Regions from separate parts of the Homo sapiens genome. Here all the other regions are linked to region 3. Evidence: fine-mapped QTL for protein levels in blood plasma. A gene starts in region 3. Each other region holds a variant in brackets. All regions are shown on one strand. Distances are from middle to middle. Region 1 overlaps RTN4R (reticulon 4 receptor). Region 2 has its middle 17 kb from the start of LINC00896. Region 3 holds the start of RTN4R (reticulon 4 receptor).

Region 1 (4,000 bases), 22 kb after region 3:
ACCCCCTCCAAGAGAATTTGCTGGATTGAAGGGCCCAGCCTCTGGCCTGGCCTGCTGGCCCTGGACCTACCTACATCTCGTTGTCTCTGGTGAGCCCAGCATCACGGGGCAGGGACGAGCCCTGCCGGCCAGGGCAAAGAGTGGAGCCGAGGGGGCTGAGGAAGCACTAGGCACACTCAGGAGGCCAGTCCTGAAGGCTCTGCCCACACTGGGCCTCAGTTTCCCCCACAGCATGTAGCTAGCTAGGCCTGGAGCTGCTTCAGTCTGGGTCCAGTGACCTCTCACCATGGCAGGTGTCCTTGCCTGTTATTGACCTGGTCTGCCTACCCTGCCCCTGCAGCCAAGATCAACAAGGAGCAGGGGCCAGGGCCAGGGCATCAGGGGCTGGTACTCACTTCCCTAGGAGACTCAGGACCCCTCAAGGGCAGACTGCCCCCACCAGAAGCTGCTGCCAATCTCCTGCCGCAGCACCTGGAGCCCTGGAAGGGCACAGGAAACACCATGGGAATTCTGGCTGCCCCTGCACGTGTCTGTGGGCCTGAGGATGGATGGCGGGTGGGTGTACATGTGAGAAGCAAGCGAGGATCGGGGGACAGATGGGTGGGGGGCGGGGGGAGTGAGTCAGTGGTGGAGGGCCAGGAGTGGGGAGCAGGCGTGGGAGGGGTGCCCTGACCCTCTGTGGTGTGGGGATGACATAGGCCCGCCACCCCCGCCTGGAGCTATTTCTGGCCTTGGTGCACTGAGCTGTGGCCTCCTGTTCTGCCTCATAACTGTGGTCTGTGACGTGACCGCCTGACGGGGACATGGCTGGTGTCCGAGAGGATCCTGAGCTGACTGATGTCCCGGCTGTGCTACAGCTGGTCCCACCCCCAGCCCCAGCCCTCTGCAGCCTCTTACCCCAGCCCTGGGAAGCAGCAGCTCAGAGCCTCCCTGGAGATTCCCCTCCCGGCCACCCATGACACAGGAGGGCGCTGCCTGCCCCTCTGCACGTGGCCTGCAGCCCAGCCCCTCCACACCCTCCCCCATTACTAGCCAGGCCGCCAGCCTTCCTGCTTGGGCAGGACATGCCTCGTGGCCCCTCCGGGCAGCACTGTGAGTGTCTCCCTTGGCCGCCTCTCCACCTGGGTAGTCTGGAGTGGGAGCAGGGCAGGGCTTAACCACTCACTGCCTCAGTTTCCTAATCTGTAAATGTATTGCTGTCTCACTTTTTATAGCAGGTGATGGGACCCTCCGGTGATCCCAGCCCAGGGGCGGCATTGGGGCCCGAGGGCACCAAGCTGTGCGTGGATGAAAGCCGGTGCTCGGCGCCTCCACAGCTGCCTGCCCTGTGCTGCCTCCTGGCATCGCTGGGCAGAGGCAAAGGCATCCCTGTGGAACTTCAGCCCAAGCTTGGGAGGGCACGGAGGTGGGCGGGGCCCCAGGAACAGTGGGGGCCAGGGACCACATGAAGAAGGCCATCCCTGCTCGGCTCGGCTCAGCTCCCTGGGCTGCTGGGGTGAGCTGCTGACCTCAGCAGCCGCCTGCCTGCCCAATGGCTGGGCATATCCCCAGAGCCTCCCACCGCCACCTCCCCATCCCCCTTCTCCACCCCTCCCCTCTGCTCCTGCCCTCCTCGCTCTCCTCCCACCTCCTCCTCCCCCCGCCACACTCCCTCCTGCAGTGAACGTGAACAGCCCTCCACTCACCAGAACTGATGGTGCAGGTGCCCACCTGGGCTGCCTGTTGCTCCCGTCAGGGGGATG[C/T]GTCCTGGACTGTTTGCTGCCCAGCCTCCTGGGCCTTCAGCCTGGTGATCCTGGGTCCTACCCTGCCCAGTCTGGCTGCCGCAGGGAGAGGCTCTGGGTCAGTATCCGGTCACTGTCCCCGCTGGGAAAGCTCAGAGCCTTCCAGGCAGGAGAGCCAGCCCTCCCCTGACTGTGGCTCCTGAGCCAGGCCTGGGCTGAGACAGGAGCTCCTAGCTATGACCCAGCCCTGACAGCCAGCAGGGCCATCCTCCGGGGAGGTCCCAGGAGGAGACCCTGGAGGAAAGAAGAGATGTTAATTGGCCTGGGAGGGTGGGAGAGGCACAGATGTACCAGTTTGTGTGCAGCTTGGAGGCTGAGGAGAGCCCTCTGGGGCCCTCGCAGGCTCAGGTGGCCGCAGGGCCAACCTGGGTGGGGACGGTGGACAGGCACGCTATCCATGGTTTCTCTGTGAGAGCTGGGGCCATGGCAGGGCTGGTTGCTCACCCCGTGTGCAAGGGGCAGGAAGGACAGAGCTCATACTGGAGGCTCCGTGAGAACTGGGGCCAGGGTGAGACTGGGTGAGAGTGGAAAGTGGGGTGATGGCAGGCAGGGAGGCCATGCTATCTCCAGAAGGACAGTAGAGCATCCTATTAGAGTTGGCCAGGCAGATAGAGGAGAGAGAAAGGTGGGCGAGAGGGCCAGAGAGGCCTTGTGGCCTTGAGGCTGCAGAGCCCAGGGGACAGGTCAGGGGCCACGGGCCAGGGAGGTCTTTTGGGGTGGGGAGGGGCTGCAGTCCACCATGGGGCCAGGGAGGAGGCTGGTGAGTCACCAGTCTGGCCCCTGGGATGGGGTCAGAGGACACCCTCCCCCCACCTGGCTGCGTCTCCCTCATCCCAGGGCCCCGGCTGTGAAGACAAACCCATGCTGCAAAGTTGGGTTTGATTATCTCATAAAAAGATGCCCCCTCCTGCTCGCTCAGCAGAGGGGTTGCCATGGAGACCAGCGGGCAGGCCCCAAGGGGGGCCAGGCTGGAGCCAATTACCATGGCTGCAGCGAGGAGAGAGCCCACCTCACCCGACTCTCAGAAGTTGGTTTACGAAAAGCAGTTGTCTCGGCAGGAACCGAGCCGTGTCTTTGCGCCCAATACCCACTTCCTGGCAGAACTGAGCGCCACGTGGCCACTCCCCCATGTCCTCCCCTGTCTCCCCCGACCCCGCACCACCGTGTGGCTCAGTTCTGGCACCTCACTGGGGGCATGTTTAGAGTGGACACACAGCTGCTTCGGGAGGGAGATCCATGAGCACAGGGCTCGGTTCAAGGCGAGTGAGCTGAGCCCTGACCACAGCCAGACTCACAGCCCACAGCTTCGGGCCTGGAGCCACAGGACAGTGGTGGGATGGTGGCATGGCTCAGTGGTAATGTGGCGGGCGTGGCCACCATGGGTGGCTAGTCTTGGTGGGTGCAGTCAGCCGCATGGTATGGTTGGTGACAAGGCTCAGTTGGTGACCCCCACAGTCAGTGGTGTGGTGTGGTCGATAATGTGGCAGTGAGTCCTGACCCTGCCCCATGAGCATGTGGGGCCTCCACCCCACCTGGCCCCAGGACAGGAAGTGCCATTTACATAGCACAGTTTTCCCTCTGGTGACAGCAGGTGAGACAGCAGTGGGGAGCTGACATGGTCAGGCCCCACCTTCCTAGGAAGAGTGTGTAGAAAGAGAGCAGAGAGGGTGTCCGCAGTTTAAACAGAACACGAGGCCAGGTGCTTTCCTCACCCAGCCCACCCAGGGAGGGGCCTCCGGACCCCCATCCCTGGGCTGCCATCTCCCTGGTAGCCAACAAATGGCCCTGGGGCAGGGGGTTTGGCAGAGGAGGCCCCCAGGCTGTGGGGAGGGGGTCTGAGGACCTATGAACCTGAGTCTGGGAGGACGCACATGCCCAGCGGTCACTGCGCGTGCTGGGCTTGCTGGGCTCTGCGTTTAGGGCGACTGCACTGTCTGCCCAAGTAGAGAGGACCCAGTGGGGCAGGGGCCCCATGTGGGTAGGAGGGCCCCAGGGTCACAGTTCTAGGTTGGGGAAGCTGGCCTGTGGTCCACTCCTTCCTCCTGCCCGGCTCCAACCCCAGCACTTAGCCGGCCTCATGTCTGCAGAATCCTGCTCTTAGCCAGCTGCCGTGGAAGGTGTTAGCTGTCAACGCAGGTGTTAGCTGATAACTCAAGTGTTAGCTGATAAGCCATAACCTTCCCAGGGGGATTCACATTTTAATAGACTCACTGCTGAAG
Region 2 (4,056 bases), 45 kb after region 3:
TGCCCATGTGTTCATATGTGTGAGCATGCTGCTTGTGTGCATGTGTGTGCTGCCCATGTTGTGCATGTGTGTGTGTTGCTCTTGTGTGCTTGTGTGTGTGCTGCCTGTTTACATGTGTGAGCGTGCTGCTCATGTGTGCATATGTGTGCGCATGCTGCTCATATGCATGTGTGTGTGCTGCCCATGTTGTGCCTGTGTGCGTGTCTGTTGCTCATGTGTGCATGTGTGTGAGCTTGTTGCTCATAGTGTGTGAGCGTGCCGCTCATCTGTGCATGTATGAGCATGCTGTCCACGTGTGCATGTGTGTGATGTCCGTGTGTGATGTCCATGTGTGCATGTGTGTGTGTGCTGCCCATCTGTGCATGTGTGAGCATGCTGCCCATGTGTGCATGTGTGTGAGCGTGCTGCCCATGTGTACACGTGTGAGTGTGCTGTCCATGTGTGCATGTGTGTGCTGCCCATGTGTGCATGTGTGTGCTGCCCATGTGTGCATTGTGTGTGCTGCTTATGTGTACATGTGTGTGCTGCCCATGTTGTGTGTGTGAGCGTGTTGCTCGCGTGTGTGTGTGCTGCCCATGTGTGCAAGTGTGTGAGCGTGCTGCCCATGTGTGCATGTGTGAGCATGCTGCTTATGTGTACGTGTGTGCTGCCCATGTTCATGTGTGCATGTATCTGAGAGCATGCTGCCCATGTGTGCATGTGTGTGTGTGAGCATGCTGCCCATGTGTGCGTGTGTGAGAGCCTGCTGTCCATGTGTGCGTGTGTGTGTGCTGCCTATGTGTGCGTGTGTGTGTGAGCGTGCTGCCCATGTGTGCGTGTGTATGTGAGCGTGCCGTCCATATGCACGTGTGTGTGAGTGTGCTGCCCATGTGAGCATGTGTGTGTGTGAGAGATCATGCTGCCATATGGGCATTATGTCTATGTCTGTCTGCCTGCCGTGCCATGGTGTGTGCCCTCCTGGGCTCGCCTGTCCTTTCATCTCCATGATGCCCTCTGGTCCCTGGCTCTCCCCCTGTGCCCAGTTCCTTCCTCTCCCCCACCCAGGGTCCCCACTCCACTCCTCAGTCCACCCAGTGCCGATGGGGGAATCAGGGACCAGGATGTGTACCTCTCCAGGCCTGGCTGTGTGACTGGGAGCTGAAGAGCCCTCTCTAGGCCCACTGCAGTTGCACTGTCTCCCAAGTGAGGTCACTTGTGCACCTGACACAGGCTGAGCTCAGCAATTGTGTCCCTGTTGCTCCAGCCCTGGAAGGGGCCCTGAGGATAGGACCAGGGTCAGAGGCAGGCTCTAGGCTGGACAGCTGCCCACACCGCAGGGTGGGCCCAGCACCCATGCCAGACAAAGAGCCACCAAAGGGAGCCACGGAGTGACAGGTGAGAAGAAAACCCCCCAGCTCTGGAAGGTTTGGGTCCCCTCAGCCCCTGCCCCCACAAACAAAAAACCATCCCCGGGCCTGACCACCGCTCGGCTCCTGCGCCCGGCTGGCCCTGCGGCCTCGGTGAAGACAGGAAATCCATACCAGGCTGAGGGATGCTTCCAGCAAGGTCAGGCCCACCGGCGGGAGAGGCAAGTGGGGGCAGCGGGGCGTCGGTTCGGCGGCAGGCCCAACTGCCTCCCCTTACGCGGCTCCCAGGCTTAAATCAGGCCAAGGTGTCCAGGCTAGCTCCCATCAGGCCTTCTGAGTACACCAAGCTGGGCCATCGCAGAGCCAGGTCCCGCCAGGCTCTGTCCAGCTTTGCTGGGTCTCCAGCACACAAACCCTGAGCCTGGGGCCCAGCTGGAGCCCTGGCAGCCCGGGTCCTCACACATGGGCAGCAGGGATGCGGGTTCCACTCCACGTCCCAGGAGCCAGCACAGGGGCCAGGACGCGAGAGACCTTGCTAACCAGGACGGAGCCACCCAGCAGAGATGGAGCCTCACTCTCCTGCCGCCCCCTGCAGCCTCTTCCCCATCCCTGACCTGCCCCAGGGGCTGGCGGAGCTTCAAAGGCCCCTGCTGGGGTTCCACTTGACC[A/G]CCTCAGGGCACAGCTCATCTCCTGCCCAGGAGCTGTCGCCCTGGATACCACCTGCACCCACAGCAGCTCAGAGAGGCTTCCTCTCAGCCTCCCAGACCCCCTGCTCAGGCAGGTGACTGATGGGATCAGCATCCCTTCTCCCCAGGAGACCAGGCAGCCAGCTCGGGGGCATTTATGGATAAATAAACGAATGAATGAACAAAAGAACAAATGCTCCAGGCCTCCCCACAGAGATAGGGCTGCCCCAGGTGACTGCAGGAGGAGGGGCTCCCGGGCCCTGAGGATGGGGAGCTCAGTCCACAGGGCCCTGGACCGAGCTTTGTTCACAGTTCCTATCAGTGCCCAGGATCAGTGACAGGACAGCGATGCCCAGTGTGGGCTCAGGTGCCCGAGGCCTGGCACAAATTTCCCTGCTGCACACAGCTGGGCAGGGTGTGCCATATAGTCTGCTGGAGAGGTGGAGGCAGAGGGAGTGGAGGCTCCTGCTGCTGTTTCCCAAGTTGCTCCCATCTGCCCCTGACTGCCTGGCAGGCCGGCCCTTTCTGGTGTGGCACCACCACATGGCTGGTTCTGGCTGCTGGGGCATGCATGGCACGCCTAGGTTCCGGCAAGGCCTGCAGCCTCCCTCTCTCCCTCTGTCTGGGATCCAGCAGCATCTGAGAGGGTGGCTGGGTCATCAAATGACTTAGAACAGGGCCTCACCCACCCACCCTGTGGGGGTTTGCCAGGCCCCTGGCCTGGGTGCCCAGACATGTAGCCACTGTCCTCTGGTGCTGGCCAGAGTGGCCTCTGTCCCCATTTCTTTCCTCCAAGAGGTGGCTCTGCTGCCCAGCCAGCCCCTCCTGCTGCTCCCTCCCTCCTCCAGGTCAGACCCCAAGCCATTCCCCAGGCTGACTAAGGAGGGGTGCAGACTGCCCCCTGTGCCTGCCTGGTGACCAGTGCCCACTGTGCACTCCCCCAGGCCAGCCGAGCCTGGCACACACTGGGTGCTCCCTAAATACCCATGGAGGATATCACAGCCACCCCCATTTTATTCAGGGGTCACCAGCTCCCTGCCCTTAAGGCCAGGCTTTCCCTGAGCCCGAGTCTTATTTGGAGGGAGGTGGGGGCCACGCCTGCAAAGCCATGTTTTCATTAGCAAGCGATGAATAATTAATGCCACAGCGCCTTTGAGAACTGTTTTGGTTTTTATTTTAAACATTTTTTTCTATGTATAGAAACAGCACTTCCGTTAGGCACCAAATTTATTTTTTAATAAACGTGGCAGTTATTTATTCAATCCCTGGTGCTCCCTGGAGTGGCTGGCACGAGGGCGAAGAGAACTTGCCAGGGCACCATTGGCAGCCTCCACCATGTGCCCGCCTAGCCCCCGCTGTGCATGGCCAAGGTGGAGGACACACGGCAGAGGGCAGAGGTCGGTAAGCAAGGCCCGGCCAGAGGCCAGAGCTGCAGTGCAGTTGCACAGTGGCCAAGCCCTGTGGCACACTGGGGCCCTGCCTGGGTCCTCAAGCTTCCCTGCCTGGGTCCTCAAGCTTCCCAGCCTGGAATGGGGTGATGGTGCAGGGGGCCCCAGGTCTGAACACGCTGCCCAGGTATTCTAGGCAGAGGCTGGGAGCTCCCCTCAGAGAGATGCCAGGAGGCACACAGAACCCGGCAGAGCCACTTGTCCCAGGAGGGCAGGCTGAGCCAGCCACGAAGTACAAGGCCAAGCTCCGCACCACCCACCAGGCCCACCTCTCTTTGTGCACAGAGCCTGGGACCAGAGCTGAGGCCCAGAGAATTCATGGGCTCCGTAATTCTCCAGGTCGAGAGGCAGTCAGTGTTGATTTCTTGGCTCTTCAAGTCCATCCACAAATCCCATTACTTGGTGCTTTCTCAGAAATTAAGTCGGAAACACTTTTAGTTTTAAATTACAAGTCGAGGAGAGTTTGCACAGCAGAAGACAAACAGTATGTTGACACTCTCCAAATGCACCTTCCCTGGCCAACTGCCACAGCACATGAGCCCTCTGACCCATCCACAGCCAGGGGCCAGGGAGTGG
Region 3 (4,052 bases):
GGGAGGGGCTTTAAACCTATGAGATAGGGTGTGGGGTCACAATCTTCAGCTATAGTGGGCTGCTCTGGGTCACTGGTAATTGAAGAGACGCCTGCGGAGTAAGCAAGCAAGTGTCCTCTCAAGGCCTTTCTGCAAGCACAGAGCAGCCCGAGACTGGAGCCTGGTCCACCCCAGCGCTGTCCTCAGACTGATGGTCAGTGCCACGTGACTCATCTAGGGTCTGATACATCCCTGTGGAGAGAGCTCAGTTCCTAGCCTGGGGGCTGCTGTGTGCAGGGACCCTGGAGAAGAATGCTTGTCTGGGGGTCAGGCCTCAGCCTCCCACTGGCTCTGTGAGCTTCGCCTGAGGTTCCCTATCTGTGCAATGGGTGATGACGTCTTGGTGTGGCTCTGGGAGGACCTGTTGAGCCACCTCAGGGGCTGAGCTGGTGGCACTCGGCAGCCAGCACCCTCTGGGGAGGTGGCAGTGTGTGCACAGCCCACCCCTTCAGGAGGCCAGGGGACAGAGTGGCTGGGGGTGTCTGGGCCCCACCTCACCTTCTGTGTGGCTGGGAATGGCATGCACTCCACAATGCCCTCATAAGCCTAGGCTGGGACAAGGGTGATAGGGATAAAGCAGGCCAAAGTGATGAGGGCCACAGAGCGGCAGCCAGAGGCATGTGGGCAGTGCAGCCTCCACACCAGGCAGAGGGCCCACCCAGCATGGCTCCACCCTGCGAAGCTGCCTGCCACTGGGATCAGATGGGAGCACCAGGGCTCTGGGAGGTCCTCACTTCCTCTGCACAAGGCAGGCAGGTCACCGGCCCTGCGCCCTGCTCATCTCCCTCAGGGCCACCTCCATGGCCAGGGGCAGGCAGAGGGCACAGGGGTGCCCAGTCACCAGGTCTCTCTGCTTCATATCAGTGGACCTGGGCTCTGAGGGGGGCCATCAAGGCATCAGGCTGGCCCACTCCGTCCTTGAGTCAGGGTCCTACAGACTGACACCAGGTGGGCCTGCAAGACCCTCATCTGCATGGTCCTCTCATGCAGGGTGGGCCTGGGGAGGACCCAGCCCGGCTGAGCTGACTCCCAGCACTTCTCCAGGTGCAGGGGCAGCCTGGCAGTTGTCTGAAGACCCCGGGATGCACTTAGGAGCTCATCGGTGAGGCCCGGTAGGTGCCCCGAGCAGAAGATTGAGAAGGGACACCTGCACCCCTGTGTGGTGTGTGCAGGGGCGTCACTGGATTCTCTGGCCCCATGCCTCACACCGCCCGTGGGGGGCTGGCTTGGTAGAGTGGGGGGATACTAAGCAGGTGACCTCGGAGAGCGTCTTCTGGGTTTGGAGCCCCCATTCCGCAGAAGGGAAGAGGTGGGGGACCCCTGCAGGGTTACGGGTAACATCAGGCCTAGGTCCCTTCTCTAGGATGGTGCAGAGAGGGCCACAAAGGCCCAGGAGGGCCCCCAGAACTCTCTTAAGCCCTGAGCCTGTTTCTTACTGAAAAATGGGGGCGATCGTGCTGCAGCAAGGGGCTTCTGTGCAGGGGGCGGGGGATTCATGGGTTTCGTGAGGCCAGGAAGGGAGTGGGTCAGGCAGAGGCCATTCCTAGGCCTCGGGACAAAGCCCTTGCCCGCTTGGGGACCGGGCCAGCCTAGGCCGCCACACCCTCGGGCCCGCGTCCCCGGCCGGCTCCGGCCCGGGCCGCCATCCCCTCCGCCGCCTGCAGGGGCCGCCGCCTCTTCAGGAATGCGCCGCCTTTGTCTGGGACCGCGCGGCGCCGGTGCACCGGGCGGGCTGAGCGCCTCCTGCGGCCCGGCCTGCGCGCCCCGGCCCGCCGCGCCGCCCACGCCCCAACCCCCGCGCCGCCGCCGCCCTCGCCCTGTGCGCCCTGCGCGCCCTGCGCACCCGCGGCCCGAGCCCAGCCAGAGCCGGGCGGAGCGGAGCGCGCCGAGCCTCGTCCCGCGGCCGGGCCGGGGCCGGGCCGTAGCGGCGGCGCCTGGATGCGGACCCGGCCGCGGGGAGACGGGCGCCCGCCCCGAAACGACTTTCAGTCCCCGACGCGCCCCGCCCAACCCCTACGATGAAGAGGGCGTCCGCTGGAGGTGAGTGTCCGCGCTGCACCCGAGCCCGGCCGGCGGCGGGGCGCGGAGGGGGGCGGCTCGCCCCCTCCCCGGAGCCGCAGGGCCCGTCCCGGGCTGCCGAGGCGAGGGAAGCGTAGCCGGGCGGCAGGGAAAGCCACCGCAGTGCCGCGCCAGGCTGGGGCCGCTGGCGCCCCGGCCCCGGGAGGGCGGAGCCGGAGGCGGCAGGAAAAGTTGCCGCTTCCCGGGAAAGTTGACGGCTTCGGCAGGGCCGAGGGTGGCGGTCCGAGGGTCCCCGATGCTGGGCCAAGTCGAGGGCGGGGGCCGTGGGCTGGAAGGGCGGGGCCCGGCCTCGGAGCGCCCCGGCCACCAAGGGGTTAACGAGCGGGTTTTTGCAGAAACGTGGGTACCGAGGGTGGGTGGGGGTGTCGGGCCGCCTCCACCCCAGCCTCACGGTCTGGGCTCAGAACCTCCCGTTTCTCCGAGGTCAGTCCACAGTGGGATGAATGGGGGCGTTGGCGGCAGTAGAGGGCGTGGGGGACAGGGTTGTCCCAGCGCTGCCTCCAGGGCGGGCGGTGAGAGGAGGCAGCAACGCCCGCCATCTGCAGCCCGAGGGACATTGAGAGGCTTGGCTGGGGGAATCAGGGGCGGTGGGGCAATCAGCAACCCCTCCCTAGCAGCCCTCGTGGGACTCCCCCGCCCCACCGGCTGTGAGGTCCCGCGGTGCGGGCAAGGGAGGGTGGGCTCCATGTGAGTTGGGCATGCCCCGCCTGGAGGGTGCTCCCCAGGTGCCCACCCAGGCTGCCCTGCTGATGTCCATGGTGCCGCAGGCTGCACACACGTTTCCTTGCACGTGCACTTGTCTACACGGACTGCACACTTGCACACCTCTGGTGCACATGCAAGCCAACGCCGCCCCAGTGTGCACATGCACAAACACTGGGTGCACACACGGACTCTGAGGGTGCATATCTGTGTCCTCGCCCCCGCCTGCACACCCACGGCCACACATGCATGCACGCGGCATGCCTGCTGTGGTCTCCACGGGTGGCACATGCTGGGGCCCCTTTCGCAATAACCACTCCCGCACCCACATGCTCGTCTGTTGAGTGGGGAGGCCAGGCCCACAGACAGGGGCAAGACATCCTGGGCCCCACCTCTGCCTGCCTGCCTCCGTGTCCTGGGGGTCCCCGCCTCGGGCTTGTGTGCGTGTGTGTAACTTGGTATGCATCTGCACGTGTGTCTGTGCGCGTGATCATGTGTGCCTGCGGGCACATAGGCATGTCTCTTTGCCTCCAGGGTGTGGGTGCCCCTTGTGTGCCTAGACAGGCTGTGGCCTAATCTGGAGCAGAGGCCCTGGAATGTGTGTTGGGGGCTCGTTGAATACCGCAAAGCCCAGGGTGTGAGGGGCAGGGTCTCCCAGCCACTCCCTACCCACCAGGGCTGAGGCAGATAGATGATGGTGGGCTGGAACCTGTCTGGGCAGGGAAGACCCATTTCAGGCCATGAGGTCAACACTGTGACCAACAGGCCAGACCCTGGGCACCCTTGGTGGCCGCTGCAGCTTGGCTGACTGGAGCACGTGACCCAGCGTGACTGCAGAGGCCCCGCCTCCAGTGCCTCAGTTTCTCCATGGTGAGGACCTTCTTGGTGAGGGGTTCTGTGGTGGGCTCCCCTACCTCCGGTGTTGTGTAGGGTGCTGAGCAGATGGATGCCATGCTGCATGATGGGCAAGGGTGGCCCACTAGCACTGTGGCAAGGGCCCTGGGCTGGGGCTTGGATTGGCAGGCCACACCTCCTGCTCCCCTGGCCACCACCAGAGGCTCATCTATAGAGTGGGGACCAGCAGGTTATCCTTGTAGGTTGTGTGAGGGTGAAACATACTAGCAGAGGGGCAGCTGAAGCAGTGGGGCTGGCCAGTCTCTTTTTCTAAGCCTCAGTCTTCCCATCTATAAAGGGGGTACTGTTCCCTGTTCTTCTCTACTGAGGTGAGGAGG

The links. PIP is the chance, under the fine-mapping model, that this variant and not a neighbour inherited with it causes the effect. Protein levels are from antibody-based Olink assays in UK Biobank. Linkage for the fine-mapping came from a reference panel and not from the study's own genotypes, which makes the PIPs less certain.
Region 1: its variant is fine-mapped to the plasma level of the RTN4R protein (UK Biobank, PIP above 0.99).
Region 2: its variant is fine-mapped to the plasma level of the RTN4R protein (UK Biobank, PIP above 0.99).

Annotation. Positions count from the first base shown.
Region 1 is chr22:20,244,085-20,248,084 of GRCh38, reverse strand. The region is part of intron 1 of RTN4R (reticulon 4 receptor); the gene reads left to right. Among named protein-coding and RNA genes, the nearest start is that of MIR1286, 3.1 kb to the left of the region's middle. RefSeq lists enhancers at 627-736, 747-796, 643-1,233. The variant C/T (reference allele first, on the strand shown) is at 1,743.
Region 2 is chr22:20,221,575-20,225,630 of GRCh38, reverse strand. No RefSeq gene overlaps it. Among named protein-coding and RNA genes, the nearest start is that of LINC00896, 17 kb to the right of the region's middle. RefSeq lists an enhancer at 1,980-2,647. The variant A/G (reference allele first, on the strand shown) is at 2,015.
Region 3 is chr22:20,266,098-20,270,149 of GRCh38, reverse strand. RTN4R (reticulon 4 receptor) reads left to right here and starts at 1,832. Exons shown (of 2, transcript NM_023004.6): 1 at 1,832-2,079. The coding sequence starts at 2,058. RefSeq lists silencers at 1,569-1,628, 1,679-1,838, 1,929-2,088 and an enhancer at 2,300-2,988.